Linked DNA regions of Homo sapiens: regions 1 and 3 are each linked to region 2. Evidence: fine-mapped expression QTL. A gene starts in region 2. Each other region holds a variant in brackets. All regions are shown on one strand. Distances are from middle to middle.

The links. PIP is the estimated chance that this variant, and not a neighbour inherited with it, causes the effect.
Region 1: its variant is the best candidate, but not a certain one, in a credible set for the expression of KIF26B in blood mononuclear cells (TOPMed, PIP 0.58).
Region 3: its variant is the best candidate, but not a certain one, in a credible set for the expression of KIF26B in sigmoid colon (GTEx, PIP 0.76).

Annotation. Positions count from the first base shown.
Region 1 is chr1:245,509,886-245,515,222 of GRCh38, forward strand. The region is part of intron 4 of KIF26B (kinesin family member 26B); the gene reads left to right. Among named protein-coding and RNA genes, the nearest start is that of KIF26B-AS1, 280 kb to the left of the region's middle. The variant A/C (reference allele first, on the strand shown) is at 3,231.
Region 2 is chr1:245,152,047-245,157,383 of GRCh38, forward strand. It overlaps KIF26B (kinesin family member 26B), which reads left to right and starts at 2,939. Exons shown (of 15, transcript NM_018012.4): 1 at 2,939-3,441; 2 at 4,236-4,637. The coding sequence starts at 3,379. RefSeq lists enhancers at 1,075-1,750, 1,751-2,426 and silencers at 2,281-2,480, 4,348-4,887.
Region 3 is chr1:245,611,740-245,617,076 of GRCh38, forward strand. It overlaps KIF26B (kinesin family member 26B), which reads left to right. Exons shown (of 15, transcript NM_018012.4): 9 at 54-237. Among named protein-coding and RNA genes, the nearest start is that of KIF26B-AS1, 380 kb to the left of the region's middle. RefSeq lists enhancers at 1-179, 180-680. The variant C/A (reference allele first, on the strand shown) is at 2,238.

The DNA.
Region 1 (5,337 bases), 360 kb after region 2:
TTCTTCCTTAAACATCTTCACCGGTTCCTGTGCTATTACAGAGCCCCGTCTGTGGGTCTCATGTCTCTGCTCCATGCCACGCCCTCCCTTGGGCATCATCTGGGCTTTGGCTGGGTCTGTGGAGGGTCCTGGGCTGCAGTGCCATGAACAGTGGAGTGGGGCATGCGAAGTTGACAGTCACACTGAAAGCTCCTGCCTCGCCTCTCTACCTTCTTCTCTTTTGGGGGTTTCTTTCCTGAGGCAGGGAAAAAGAAACAGGAACCCAGACCAAACTGAGGAAAACACGATCAGAGATGAGATGGGGTCAGAGGCAAAGGGCTGTTTGTTGGGTTTGCACTTTCATTACTGAGAGCATTGGAATAGTTTTAAGGCGTGCAAACTGTGAGACTAGACAATTTCACTTAGAAAATGAAACGTGCATGCAGATGTTATTCTCATGGGGATATATATCTGCATCTGTTTGTCTACAAGTGTTCCCTTGCAGAGTCACAGACATATACAAAACCTGGGTTCCATCAGCTTTGTCTGCACATACGTGGCTAAATGTGTACAGGGATGTACAATTAAAGATTTTAAACACTTGATTTTGACAGTATATTTTGCAGCTGCTGTGCCAAGAACCCTAAGCTACTGTGGGTTAATTGGAGTTGTAGCAAGTATTTCTTTCTCGGCTGTCTCTTTTAGCAGAGCTTCTCTCTCTCTCTCTCTCTCTCTCTCTCTCTCTCTCTCTTCCCCTCTCTCCCTGTTTCACCCCTCCCTGCCTGCCTGCCTCTGCCCCTCCCTCCCTCCCTCCCTCTCTCTCTCTGAGATAGCAGACACCAGAGTGAAACTGGTGCAGCTTCCTTTGAGAAGCGTGCTTGCATGTGCGGATTGGCAGGATTGTGTGAGCTCCTCTCCCATCCATGCACTGTTCTTGGAGGGAAATGCAATGTTGGAGCAGGGGCTGAGCTGCACTGGGAAGGTGGCTGGGAGCTCAGTGAGGCCAGGATCATGGTTTAGCCAAAGGCTGGAATCACAAGAATGTTTCACCAGGGTCTGCTCTGAGAGTTCTCAGACCCCCATGGATTTTAGAATTTTCCAGCCTTTCCTCCTTCACCTTCGCACAATTTTACTTTCTCCTGAGATGGCCCCAGATCTGCAAGAGACATTTGAGAGAAGCTATTTATTAGCAGACGTGAAGAAATGGATTCTGCACTTGATTATTTAGCCATGACTTATCAATGATGATGGATTGGAAAGCAGTGTAAGTAACGCAGTTATATATGTTGCTGGAGTTAGGTGGTCTGTTTTCTTGCTATTTTTTTTTTACTTTAACTTTTTCAGTTTCCTTTTGAGAAAAGTAAAAATAAAATGCATAAACCATTTCAAAGAAGTTAGGAGGGTCCAGGTTGTGCAAGCTTTCTTCTTGTTCAATGGACTTGCAGAATACCTAGTTCTATCAGAAGAGACACACAAACTACCGACATAGAAGCTACAAACATCCTCCGGAGGATGGGAATGAAATGGGTAATAAATGAAGAAGGTTTCTGAACTGACAGTCATTGCTATAATCAGGCTTATTCAGAGTTGCTAAAATATTTGACATTGGCTCATATTAGAATCAAAGAACTAAAATGTATTCTCTTTACAGGATCATAAAAATGAAGTTAGCCTGTGGCTTTCAGAGCAGGTTCTTTCTGGCTGCGTAAATGTGAGGGTTTTTGTTTGTTTGTTTGTTTGTTTGGTTTTGTTTTTTAACTAATGTCAAATGTTGACTATGTTTCCTGTCCATTTCAACTTTTCTTGAGGTCGGACATCTCCCTATTCTAGAGTACAATGTCTGGTCACTCTTGGGTTGCAGGCCACTGTCTAGTGGAAAGCTAGTCATTGCTAGTTTATACCAGTCAGAGACTTTTCCATCTTTCTGTGTGAGGGCTTCGTTTAAGCACTTCAATTCCTAAGTATTCAGGGAGGAAAAACAAGTCACTTGAAGACCAAAATCAGTTTATTTCACAAGAGAAAGGAACGGCTATTTAAAAGATGAAAAATTGAAATTTAAAAATATGATCTGCCTTTTCTTCAAAATCTGAAGTGAGGTTAATTTTGTGTAGGAAGAGTAACATAAGCTTTCTTGATTAAAAAGCAGTATTTAGAGGAGGCTTTTAAGATCATAAATCACTTAGGTAAGGTCATCAAAAGAGATGGCTGATATTTTTTATGGTCATTTGCAACTTTTTAAAAAAAGTCCATACGGTAATGTTAATGCAGCTATTTCTGGCTTCTTAAAACTTGCATAGATTTGGAAGTGGGATTTCTAACAATAAGAGTCGTGAGTTTTTCTGAGCTATCATTGCCTTTCTCTGTCTATCACATTCATACCTCAGGCAGAGCTACTGTCCCTCCCACCTGTCCACCCTGCCTGTTTCCCAGCCCCCATCCTTCTCTCTGAGTCTTGGAACATCATGAAAGACTCTTCTGCAGATTTCCTTTTAACATACCCTGCCCAGCCTTGGACAGAGGGAGTACTGTGAAGCAACATGCAGGGCTGCCAATTTTGGAAATGAATGAGCTTAGTTGATTCCTGAATATTAAATCAGTTCTGTGAGCAGTAGAATGAGATCATATCTTACAAACCTGACCCAAAGTGTTCCTAACAACTTTATTAATTGGGGTTTAACATCATCAAGGGCTGTAGCACTGGGCACCCGAGGGGATCAGCCTAAACCCAAATGAAATCCCCAAACTCCACTCGGATTCCTGCTGGCCAAATGCACCTAGGGCCACGCCTTCTAAAATATGTCCTTTGTTATCAAGGGAAATCTGAGACAGAAAACACATGTTGGCAGCATCATGTGAGCGCCTCTCTGCACATAAAGTGGTTGTATCACAAGGGGAAAGCTTTCGATCTTGTGCCGTTTTGTTTTGGTTTCTTGTTTATGTGGACTCTGTTAGACTCCTGCATCTGGAAGAGGCTTGAAGCAGAGTGGAAAACCTAGAGCAAAAATCATGCCGGGGAAAGGAAAATCATTAAAAAACAATGACTAAAAACAGAATAATTTTCTTACCCAAATTCCAGTTCTCATCCTTGTTTTGGGTTCCCTGTTAAAGCAGATACCAGTTATAGCCTTCCTGGGTTAGGGGAGACAGACAGTCTTTCATCATGCCCCTGGATTTTGAGCAAAGGAGAAAGCTTGCTCCAGAAATAGAAAAGAAAAGGCAAAAAGAAACCATCTTTCGAGTTTCTGCTCACT[A/C]ACAGAGGAAGCAACCCCACCCTCCTCCACACCCTCCTCCACCCCCACAGCTTGTGCCTCTCAACTGCCCCTGGTGGACAGCTCCAACCTGCACCCCCCCCCAACCCCGCCGCCCCCTCTAGAATCTCACGTGTTTTCGTGGAGGACCGAGAGTGCTTTTTAGCAGTGAATGAGCAAAGAGACCAGATATGCTGATACCTGCACATGGTCTTTGAGAGAGGCAGCTGATTGACATCGGGAAAACTGCTGAGCAATTAAAAAAAAATACTAGAGTCAAGGTGAAAGAAAGGAGAGAAAGAGACAGCGAGAGAGACAGGTGGGTTGTCTCTAAAGTTTCAAGCAAAGTTCTGTGAAGCACCTAGCAGGTCAAAACTGATAAGGGCAGATGGTGAAGAAAAGTCTTAAACTGATCAGTGCCTTACACATGGAACGAAGCTTTCATTTCGGCCCGATGTTCTGCCAGAAAGCTTTGCTTGAGATCCACCGCCAGTGTTCTTGCTTTGCTCAACGATCCCACTATGCTGGTATGTTCTCTCTCTGGACAGCCGTCTTTCTAACAACGGGTGCTGTTCTGAAAAGCTGGGAGCCCAAGAAATGTTGTAAAAACCAAGCGTGGCCTTCAGCTGTTGGACCCTGAGGAACAGCACCTGCATTAGGGCCTTGCTCACGTTTCTTACTAGACAGGTTGCCAGCTCTCATTTTTGCCCTTTGTCTGAGCTAATTGGCCTTAGTGTTACATCGGCCCACATTTTTCTCCCTGTAAACTCCATTCCTCCCTCATTTCATCTACACTGCAGAGAACTCTCAAGCTCCTGGTGAGTTTTGCTGCAAAGCCTGTGGCACGCTGAAAGAATGCACCCCTTCCGAACCTCATCTTCCCACTTCTTCCACTGGAGACACTGCGGGGGAGAAACATGTAAATATCGTTAATAACAATGCATCGCGTCCTTGAAAATTGCTGCTAAGAGAGTAGATTGTAAGTGTTCTCACCATAAAAAAGTATGTAAGATAATACATATGTTAATTAGCTCAGTCTAGCTATTCCACAATGTGTACATATTTTAAAACAATGTGTTGTACATGATAAATATATACAACTTCCACTTGTCAGTTAAAAAATAAAAAATAAGTCCAGGCGCAGTGGCTCACACCTGTAATCCCAGCACTTTGGGAGTCCGAGGCGGGCGGATCACTTGAGGTCAGGAGTTCAAGACTGGCCTAGCCAACATGGCAAAACCCCGTCTCTACTAAAAATACAAAAATGTTAGCCAGGCATGGTGGCGGGCGTCTGTAGTCCCAGCTACTCAGGAGGCTGAGGCAGGAGAATCGCTTGAACCCAGAAGGAAGAAGTTGCAGTGAGCCAAGATCCTCCACTGCATTCCAGCCTGGGCGACAGAGTAAGTGAGACTCCATCTCAAAAATAATAATAATAATAATAAAATAAAAAATAGACATTTATATAATGAAGGTTTTTAAAAAAGAAAATTAAAATAAATTTGGAGAATGACCTGTGAAAAATGCCTCTGCAAGTTTTCCTGACCAGAGGAAGGACTTGGCTTCTCTCCTAGACATTTTTTCTCGTATCTTCCTCTAGGAGTCAGTGGAAGAGTGGCGATTAGGTAACATCTGAATGTAGTAGAACCCAGAGCTGTTACCTCCATTTGAGCTACTGCTGGTCATTGCTTGACTTCTATTCTCTCCATCAGTAAAATGCACGCGAAGCTTACCTCATTAGGTTTTTCGAGAATTAAATGAGATAATGCATGGTGCTTAGCTTAGCGTCTGGCCATAGCCTTGATGTCAATACTGTCCTCATGTTCTCCTGTCAGCGGTAGGTCTGTCTCTCAGACACTTTCCAACAGAGGACCCAGATCCTTAATGACAGGGGACCTGGGAAGACAGGGAGGCAATGTCACAGAATGGAAAGCGTGCTCGAGTAGAAGTCAAGACCTGGGTGTTTGAGTCCCAGCTCTGTGCATAACCATTTGAGTGATCTTAAGAAAATGATCACCCCCTCTTCCATGCTACAGCCCTAGATGGGTTACTCCTTACTCCACCACTCTCCTCACCTTGACTCGTGCCGGTCCCTCAGCACGACGGGTCCTCC
Region 2 (5,337 bases):
AAGAAACACTAAAAGAAATGACCCAGTTAGAAACTTGCCTCTAAAGGAAAAAAAATAAAGAGCCCCAGACATGACAAAACTGGGTAAATATAAAAAACTTGACATTTTCACTGAAAGACAACAGATTGTTTCAAGTAAAATTGATGAAATTGTTTTGTGGATTTTATAATGCATGTAGATGTAAAATATATCAAATTAGTAGCACAAAGGAGGAAGGTAAGATGGAGAGGTTGCAAGTCTACATTTTAGGTGAAGCGGCACAATGTTAATTCTAAGTAGCCTATGAAATGTTAAAGATTCATATTATAGGCCAGGTATGGTGGTTTCATGCCATAATCCCAGCACTTTGGAAGGCGGAGGCGGGAAGACAGCTTGAGCTCAGGAGTTTGAGACCAGCCTGGGCAACACAGGGAAACCTTGTCTCTACTTAAAAAAAAAAAAAATTAGCCAGGTGTGGTGGTGTGCACCTGTAGTCCCAGCTACTAGGGAGGCTGAGGAGAGAGGATCATTTGAGCCTGGGAGATGGAGGCTGCCGTGTGCCATAATAGCGCCACTGCACTCTAGCCCAGGCAACAGAGTGAGCCCCTGCCTCAAAAAAAAAATCCATATTATAATCATCAGAGCTAAAAAGTCAACAGAGAGATGAAACTGGAATACTGAAAAGTTATTCAATTAACAAAAAAAGGCATGAGAGACAGAAGAATGAAAGAGAGTAGAGATAGAAAACAGACCCATACTAGCAACAACATGAAACTCAAAAACCTGTGTTAAGTGAAAAAAGCCAAACCCAAAAGAGTACATGCTGTACGGATTCTATGAATTAAAAACCCTTCCAGATCAGTCCACACTAACCCATGCTGATAGAAATCAGAACAGTAGTTTCTTATGAGAGGTGGGGATTGCCTGGGAAAAGGTAGATAACCTTCAAGAGGGACAGGAATTTATAGATGTTGATCGAGGTGGTGGCCTACGCAGAGTACACGTTTGTCAAAATTCATAGAACTTAACAATTAAAATGTGTGCGTTTCATCTTATGTATATACATTTTACATAAACATCAATTTTTGAAAGCTTCTTAAAAACTCTTGCAGAGCCTCCGGTTATAAACTTTAATCAACAGAGGGCGCTCGGAGCCCACCAAACACGCTTTGGGCCCCCAGCTACTTAGAAATGCAAATCAGAGCAGCTCTGGGCTCCCCCGTCTCCGAGGTGGATCGCGCAGCTCCCCAACACTCCCCCTCGACACCCCACCTTCCCCACCCGCGGCCTCGCCGGCTCGTTTCACCACACGCTGCTTTTTGGCTGATAAGCGGCTCGTGGCCAATGGCGATGATGTGTTTCGCGGCACCTACGCGAAATACAGATGCGGGTGGGAGCTGGCGCGTGCTGCCTGGAGGTGTACCTGCCCCCTAAGGTCCCCTATTGATAGGATCGCTTTTAAATTGGAAGTGGGAACGTAACGGAAACGTCCACTCTGTTCTTGCCATCTTCCTTTTGACCTTTTTACCTCGCTTTGGTGGCTGTGAAATATTCCCGCGCAGGAGCTGGAGCGGGGAGGAGTGGGGCAGAGCACGGGAGGCACAGAAGAAATTGTCCCCGAGGAAGGCAGAGTGGGGGCGTGGCCCCAGGCTTCCAGAACCCCGAACCTTTGTCTTCTTGCCCCCTCCTGCGTCGTCCACAGCTCAGAAGGAAGTCAGCGACCAGAAAGCCCTGAACGTCCTTCGCGCCCTCGCCCACCCCCGGGCTGGGTCTCCCCGCGGGCGCGGAGATGCCGTTACACCCCACGTGATCCCTGCGCCCGGCCAGTCCTTCCAGAGGCGTCTCGCGGGGTGTTAATTAAAGGTCACAACAAAACAGACCTGCTGGCTCACCAGAAGAAATGTCCTCCCGTGAAATGAAAAATGACACCCCAGAGCAGCCACGTGTGGAGCCTGGCATACGCCGGCTTCCTGCGCTCCTGGGCGCTGCGCCGGGGGACTGGGGCGGGGGGCGATCGGAGAGGGAGCGATGACGGGGTGCTCCGGAGACCCCGCGGGGCCCAGGCGCAGGAAGAAACGGGCGGCGGGGGGCGAGGGGCCCGATCCCACGCAAGGAGAGGCCAAGGCCAGCTCGCGCCACACCCCCTCTCCAGGCCAGAGTCGTCCGCGTGCAGCGCGGCGAAGCCCTCAGTTTCCCCTGCCCGGCAGCGGCCCGCTGGGTCACCAGGCTCACCTGTCCCAGCCCCGGGCGGCTTAGTCCATCACAGACCGGGGCTCGGGCGGGCGGGGGACCAAGGGCCCTAGTCCTGCGGCTGCGGTCGGGGAGGGTGGCCCCCCGGCCGGCCCGGGGTCGGTAGGGCAATTCCAGAAAAGGTTTGCCCGGCAGCTCTCCGAGAACAAAGGGCGGGGGGAGGACCCGGCATGTTTGTGGACTTGTTTGTGACTCAATCCCTTTTGCACGGCGTTTCACAGACAGACCTGCAAGCCTTGTCAGGAAGAGAAAGAACTTGGGGGCGGGGGAGGCTGGGGCACCGCATTTCCGTCCAGCCACGCTCGCTCGCGCGGCCCCCGGGCTCCAGGCTCGCGCAGCGGCGTTTCATTAGAGCCCCGGGCCCGGGCCGCGCGCCAGGAACTTCCCCGCACGCGGCGAGATCGACGATCCCCCGCCCCCAGCCCCAGCCCGGCTCCAGGCCTCGCAATGTCAGGCACGAGCGCCGCCACATAAAATGGATCCCGGCCGGCGCGGCGAGGGCGGCAGGTTCCCGAGGCTCCTCCGCGCTGCGCCCGGGCGCACACGCGCGCTGTGACCGCCGACCGCTCCCGGGCCACGCGGAGCCGCCCCTCTCCCGGCCCTCGCGCAACTGTCAGGCGAAACGGGCCGGCGGATATTGGCTCGGCGACACGCCGAGGCTCCTCCCCGAGTCTGGATCTTTATATTTTGGGAGAATTTCTTTGAACTCAGTTACCAAGCTCGGTGAAGGAGACAAGTTCCCACAGCTGACTCGGCTCGGCTCTCCCACCTTCCCGGCAGCGGCCGCGAGCCCTGATTGTATCCCTCGCTTTCCTCGTGGGGGAGCACGGACTGACTTGGCTGAAGAAAATGCCAGTTCTGTGGATGTGGCCGTGACAAGAGGACGTGCGGCTGGAAGAGGCAGAAGGGGACGAGGAAAAGCATGCTTTGAAGAGAAGAATAAACCAGCGACCCCAACCCTTTCTGCAAATTGGTGCTATTACTTGTGGGATCCATTTGCTTTCATTCCCTCCCACCCCACCGCTGAAGAAACCTTGCCCTGAGGGCTGAGAGCCAGCCCCCTGCAGCCGGGGGACGCTTCTGGGTTGGAGGACCTTCTGGATGTAGCGTCGGTGGAACCTTTAGATACTCTCCTCTGGAAAAGCCACCATGAATTCGGTAGCTGGGAATAAAGAGAGGCTTGCGGTCTCCACCAGGGGCAAGAAATACGGGGTAAGTTGTGACGGTACGACGCGGAGACGCGTTACCAGACCCATCTCGGCGGAGGTCCCCCTTTCCCCGGGATCGTGCGGCCCCGGCCCCGAGCTCTCCCCCGCTGCAGAGGCGCCCCCGGGGCTGGCGGGGTTGTGAGTGCGCGGAGGCGGGTCGGCCGCGGGGACGCCCGCACGCTCGCCTCGCTCTCGGAATTTTTTCAGCCCTCTCGTTCCTTCCTTTCCACGCACCCGTAACTTTTGCCGCATTCCTGCACTTCTAGGCAGAGTGAAGCCGAAGGGGAGGGTTTCCCATGAATGCTGGGCAGTACCTCGGATCGTTTAGCTGGAGCCGTGAGAGCCTCTCGTTTACCTGCAGGATCCGGAGAGTTGGACCCCGTATGAATAAAAATCCTGAAATCACAGCCCTCCCCCTACCCCCCCCATAGGGTCTTCCAGGATTTTGTTCCCGGGATCTTGCTGGGATAGGTGCCGGCTTCAAAAGCGTGGGGCGCTGAACCTATGGATCCCCCCCGCCTTGCAGAAGCCGTGGAAACGGCCCCGAGCGAGTCCCCTTCCTGACCCCAGGAGGAGGCCACCGGGGACCAGCGCAGGGGTCACCTGGGCGGTGGGGACTCACTTAAGGACAATTAACGAGACAGACGGAGGGCAATTTGGCCGCAGGGCTTGGAGAGGTCCCCAACCGACTCCCGTGGGCGGTTCGAGCGGGTACTTGGTGGCGCACGTATGACCCAGCTCCTGGGCGCTGCAGCCCGCCGCCTTGCAGCCCCTGACACCGGCGTGTCTTCCCCGCAGGTGAATGAAGTCTGCTCGCCCACCAAGCCCGCAGCGCCCTTCTCCCCGGAAAGCTGGTACCGGAAAGCATACGAGGAGTCGCGCGCCGGCAGCCGGCCCACTCCTGAGGGCGCGGGCTCAGCGCTCGGCTCCTCGGGGACCCCGTCTCCCGGCTCGGGCACCTCGTCCCCGAGCTCGTTCACCGGCTCCCCGGGACCCGCCTCCCCCGGCATCGGCACTAGTTCGCCGGGCTCCTTGGGCGGCTCTCCGGGCTTCGGCACAGGCTCCCCGGGCTCCGGCAGCGGCGGCGGCTCCTCCCCCGGCTCGGACCGCGGCGTCTGGTGCGAGAACTGCAACGCCCGCCTGGTGGAGCTCAAGAGGCAGGCCCTGAGGTTGCTCCTCCCGGGGCCCTTCCCGGGCAAGGTGAGCGCCGCGCGGGGCTGGCTGGGGAGGCGCCGGGAGGGCGGGGCCGGGCCGCCACCCACAGCAGCTGCTCAGCCCGCCGCGACCTTGCGCGCCGGCTCCACGCGAGAGCCCCCGGCGGCGCTGGGGATGCTCCACACCTCACGGGGCTCTAGCACGCGGGGCGACCCATGCCCCTTCCTCAGCCAGGCCGCCCGGGGGGCAGGAGGACCGAGTCCCGAGCGCGAAGGGGCGCCCGTGGCCACAGGCCTCACGGCCCACGGGGGAGGCCCCCAGGTGGTCTCTCCTGCCGCCCCCTCCCAGCTCTCCCTGGCGGCTGCAGGCTGCGCTTTCGATGTTTCTCCCCACCCCCACCTGTGATCCTTTACAAAAATGTCAGCGGGAGCTGTAAAAGCAAGCTGATGCTCGGAGCTGGCATTTCCCACTGCCTGTTTGTGGTCCATCCTTTCCGCGGTTGCAGAAACAGAAACATACTCGAAAGCCAGCATTTTCCCCTTCTCAGTCTGTGTGTGTGTCTGAGGAAGATCCGGAGGCGGGTGGCTCTTCGGAGCAGTGCTCCCTCCTGGCCTGCTCCTGCGCCAAGCACACTGGTTCCTCCATAGCAACCCTGCCCGCAGTGTGTGACTGGCCCGAGCCCCCAGGGGATAGCAATGCGATTGTATTTGCACTGTTGGGTCCAAGTACTATCAAATGATCATAT
Region 3 (5,337 bases), 460 kb after region 2:
GACAGCAAGCCCTCCTCAGCCTGCAGCCTCATCTCTTGGCTTCTGTCTTCCAGCTGCAGAACCAGAGCGAGCTGCGGGCCCCCACCGCAGAGAAGGCTGCCTTTTTCCTGGATGCCGCCATTGCCTCCCGCAGGAGCCACCAACAGGACTGTGATGAGGACGACCACCGCAACTCACACGTGTTCTTCACACTGCACATCTACCAGTACCGGATGGAGAAGAGCGGGAAAGGGGGAAGTAAGTCGGCCACTCCACCCTCCTGCCTCCTTAGCGGCTCTGGCCCCAGCCAGAAATCCCTTGGGCAACCATGACCTTTGTGTGTGTGTGTGTGTGTGTGTGTGTGTGTGTGTGTGTGTGTGTGTGTGTGAGAGAGAGAGAGAGAGAGAGAGAGACAGGGTCTTGCTCTGTCACCCAGGCTGCAGTGCAGTGGCACGATCACAGCTCACTGCAGCCTCAAACTCCTGGGCTCAAGTGATCCTCCTGCCTCAGTCTCCCAAGTAGCTTGGGACTACAGGCTCATGCCACCACACCTAGCTATTTATTTGGTTATCTTTGTAGAGATGGGACCTTGCTATGTTGCCCAGGCTGGTCTAGAACTCCCGGTCTTGAGATCCTCTTGCCTTGATCTCCCAAAGTGTTGGGATGAAAGGTATGAGCCACCATGCCTAGCCAAACTTTTCTTAATAGACTACAATATGCAGTTCAGTGACTCGTAATTCAAGATAATTATAGTATCTGGGCTGAAGTTCACTTTTGAACTGTCCAGGGAAAGGAGTTTGCTTTGGTAAAGGTAATTTACAAATGTCATTGCCATGAGAATGTGAGAGGTCAAAGTTACAAAAAGAAAACAACTGCCTGACAGTATCTTTTTGTTCACAGACCTCAAAAATGCTCCTCAAGAAAGACCAACATTTATCCACCAAAGCACTCCGGCAGTGTGTTATCATCATTAGCTCGAGGCCACTGTATGGACCATGTTTTTTAAAATAGCATAGAAATCAGACTTTTGAATAACTACCCAGACCCTGGCTGCCTCCCTCAAATCGTCAGTGAAGGTTTACTGTCAAAACCCAGGTACGGTGCCTGCTCTTCGAGTGAGCTGCCCTGCCAGGAACCCAACACTGTGCCCCTACAGACCCCTCTTGGCTGTGTTTCCAAAGTCAGCCCGGGCTGGGGTGCAATTCTCTGCCTTCTGTGAAGTAGTGTTTACTCTATGCCCAAAAGAGTTGAGCACCAGATCAGCTGAATGTCTCCAGTGGGGATCTTGGACCAGGGGCAAAGTGGTCTGTTGATTTCACTGGGTTCCTAAGGCAGGTTGTGGGTAACGGGGCTGCTGGGCTGGCCGGGCAGTGGCTTCCGTGGTTCCTCCATGTCCCGCTCTGCCGGGCTTTCAATACACAGGCAACTGGCTCCCAGCGCTTTCTGCATGATTGTCTCAAAGACACTGGATGCCAGAAAAACAATCAGAAAACTGAGTTAAGAGTCTAACCCTGGACTGGAAATTGTAAAGCTCATTGAGTAAAGCAGAGATGGTCCGCAAAGCTGTTGTAGATGAAGCCTAGAATGAAGACATCCAAGTAGGACCAGGCGTGGTGGCTCACACCTGTAATCCCAGCACTTTGGAAGGCCAAGGTGGTTAGATCACTTGAGGTCAGCAGTTTGAGACCAGCCTGGCCAACATGGAGAAACCCCGTCTCTACTAAAAATAAAAAAATTAGCTGGGCGTGGTGGCACACACCTCCCAGCTAGTTGGGGGTCTGAGGCAGGAGAATTGCTTGAACCCAGGAGGCGGAGGTTGCAGTGAGCCCAGATCGTGCCACTGCACTCCAGCCTGGGTGACAGAGCAAGGCTCTGTCTCAGAAAATAAAAATAAAAAGACTTCCAGCTGGGATCTATGGACAGGCTCCCCCTGATTTCCCCTAAGCCTCCTCGTGGCTCAAAAGACCTGGACAACAGTACTCCTGGGGAGAGAGCTCTTTGCGGGCTTCTGCTGTCCCCAGGCAAAAGCGCCTCCCTTCCCCCACCTCGGTGCCTCTCTTCCTACTCTTTAGTTACTGTTGTTAAAATCCAGGTTTATTGCAGTATAAGGTACATTCACCAAAACATCACTTTGATGTGTCTTTAGATGAGTTTTGGCCAATCTATACAGTCATGTAGCCACCACCATTATCAAAATAGAGCATAAGGCTAAAGTTCCCTCTTGCCGTTTGTCCCTTCCCCTGACCTCTAGCCCCTGG[C/A]AACCACGGATCTGATTGTTGTCCTGGTTTTGCGTTTATCCAGGATATCGTGGGAATGGACTCGTGTGGCCCAGATGTGGCCTTTTGTGTCTGGCTTCTTTCACGTAGTGTCCTAATGCATTTGAGACTCCCCCATGCTGCAGCACGCGTCTCTTGTTTCTTCTGGTTCCTGCTGCCTGTTCTGCCTGCTCCTTTAGTTTTTTTGTTTGTTTGAGATGAAGTCTCACTCACTCTGTTGCCCAGGCTGGAGTACAGTGGCGTGATCTCGGCTCACTGCAACCTCCGCCTCCCGAGTTCAAGCGATTCTCCTGCCTCAGCCTCCTGAGTAGCTGGGAATACAGGTGCCCACCACCATGTCTGGCTAATTTTTGTACGTTAAGTAGAGACGGAGTTTCACCATATTGGCCAGGATGGTCTTGAACTCCTGACCTCGTGATCCACCCGCCTCAGCCTCCCAAAGTGTTGGGATTACAGGCGTGAGCCACCGCACCTGGCCTCTCCTTCAGTTTTGACTGGGCCTGGAGGCTTGGTTCCTACCCTACCACCAGGACAGAATGAAAATATCCACAGCTGGGGCTGGAGTTCCTCTAACTGGGGCTGCTTTTTATGGCTCTGAAAATCAGCCCTGAGCTGCCTCCAGTGGCTGCTGTGAAGAACCGAGAGGTTCTGGTCCTCACTTACAGCGGGCGAGGCGCCCCAGGGAAGTGGCCCATTAGCTTGAGGGCAGCTCTCTCGACAGCCCATGATGGTGAGCAAAGTCTCACTGGAGAGGAGCCGAGGATAGTGAACGGGAATCTCTCGGGAGATGTATTCTTGGTAACAGGCTCACACCATGTAGAGCGCTTCCGTTTAGAATCACGTTCTTAAAGAAGGAAACGCATTCGGATAGGGATGAGGAGATGCAGACCTTTAAAATCGGATAGGGATGAGGAGATGCAGACCTTTAAAATCGGATAGGGATGAGGAGATGCAGACCTTTAAAATCGGATAGGGATGAGGAGATGCAGACCTTTAAAATCGGATAGGGATGAGGAGATGCAGACCTTTAAAATCGACAGCACAATTGCATCCACATTTCTCCTGACTGTGTGGGAGTTGGCCTTGAACCCTGCCCTCACTGTTTTCTCCTGGGTAGTGTCTTCACCCTGTCAATGTAAGAGTCTGACAAATGTTTAGTTTATTCTTTTAAGCAGCTGTCAGTAATCATCATCATCAGAGCCTGCAGGACTTTCTTGTACTTTCAGTAAAGAGTGACTCGCAAAACATCTAACCCTTGAGCCAAATGACTCCCAAATGGCACTGATCAGAAAAACTTGGGAGATGGGATTATCTCTCCTCCTTCCAGGTTTCAAACCAAACTGAGGACAACTCTGTTTTCGGTTTTGTACTTTTTTTCTTTTTTGCAGTTCTGCTTTCGATTTGGAATCTGAAAGTAGGGAGAAATCTTGAAAACAAGGAAACAGTTCATTAAATGACTTCAAATATAAGAACTTGAAATTCAGATTCCACAAAAGTTTAGGCCAAGACATTCCCTAAACCCAGTGATCCACCCCAAATCAGTACCTAAGGAATCCTGCACCCTTATTAAATATTTAATAGCCAGCTCATCTTCTTCCTATTTTTAAGTTGTGAAAGAGAATTGCTTTTAAATAATGCATTCAGGTTAAAAGAAAGGGCAAATACCACGAATGGTTTCCAAAACCTCGGTTAGGTCCTTCCTAATGTTTCAGTGGATGAGAACAAAGAAGGGGAAGGAGTCCAGGGGTCGTGCGATCGGCAGACCTGGGGGACATCTCTTCCCTCCCGAGGGGAAAGGATCCCGGCCAGAATGCACACGGCCTCCCCGCCTGGGACTCACTTGACTTCAGTGAATTTATAACTGTTTAAAATATAATGAGGAGATTTGGAGGGTTGTTTAAAATGGAAATTTTGTTTACTTACATATAAGTAATAATCCCTGCGGACCTGGCAGCCAGAACTCAATTAGGGGAAAGTTTATTAATTAGTCACCCTGCAGGGAAGCCATTAGAAGAGATCTCTGCCGCAAGAACTAAATAGACTCTGTGTGCGCCTCTGAATCTCATATGCACACATGCATTTTATACATTTTACACACAAATGCATCTTACATTTATAATTTTACACACAAATGCATTTTACACATATAAGTAGACAGACAAAAAAAAGTTTTAAACATTTCCAGTCAAAATAGAAAAGTCTTTGTTGATGTATCCCTGTTTTGCAGATAGCACTAGGTTAAGCTTAAAATATCTCCCTGTTTAAAAGCTCATTGGAATTAGTGGGACTGATCCTTCAGCCTCATGGAGGCCTTCCTCTGCTTTGCGAAGCTAAATCTGTAATAGCTTGAGAGCCTCCTCGGGAATCCCAGCACTGGGAAACAGACCCTGAAGCCCTACTGATCAGAGAGCTGCTTCTCATAACGACGCGTGTACTGGGCACCTAAAACAAGGTGGTGCTTGGGACCAGAAGTGTTTCAGATTTCAGATTGTTTTCCGATTTTGGAATATTTGCATATGTAATGATCCCTTGGGAATGGGACCCAAATCTAAATACAGATTTCATGTATGTTTCATATATGCCTTATAGACATAGCCTGAAGGTAACTTTATACAATATCTTCAATAATTTTGTGCATGAAACAAAGTTTTTACTGCATTTTGACTGCAACCCCTCACGAGGTCAGGTGTGGAATTTTCCCCTTGTGGCATCATATTGGCCTTCAAAAAGTTTGAGATTCTTGGAGTATTTTGGATTTCAGATTTTTTGGGTTAGGGATGCTCAGCGTGGACTAGTGATACTTCAGGGTAATGCGCTAATGATACGGAGATCGCACCTGTCCTGTTGACAAAGATAATTTCAAAAGCCCCACTTTTATGAGTAATCTAAGCATGCAAGCAACTGTTGCTCAAGGTCCACAATGACACCGGGTCTCTGATTTGTTCATTCTCTTTATTGCCTCTGTGGGGAGGATTAGAGGGCTTTGTAGGCTGGGCTGCTGTGTGCGCACACAAATGTATGTGCACATGGGCACACATCTGTGCTACACTCATCTGTCTACACATCTCATCAGACTCTTTAA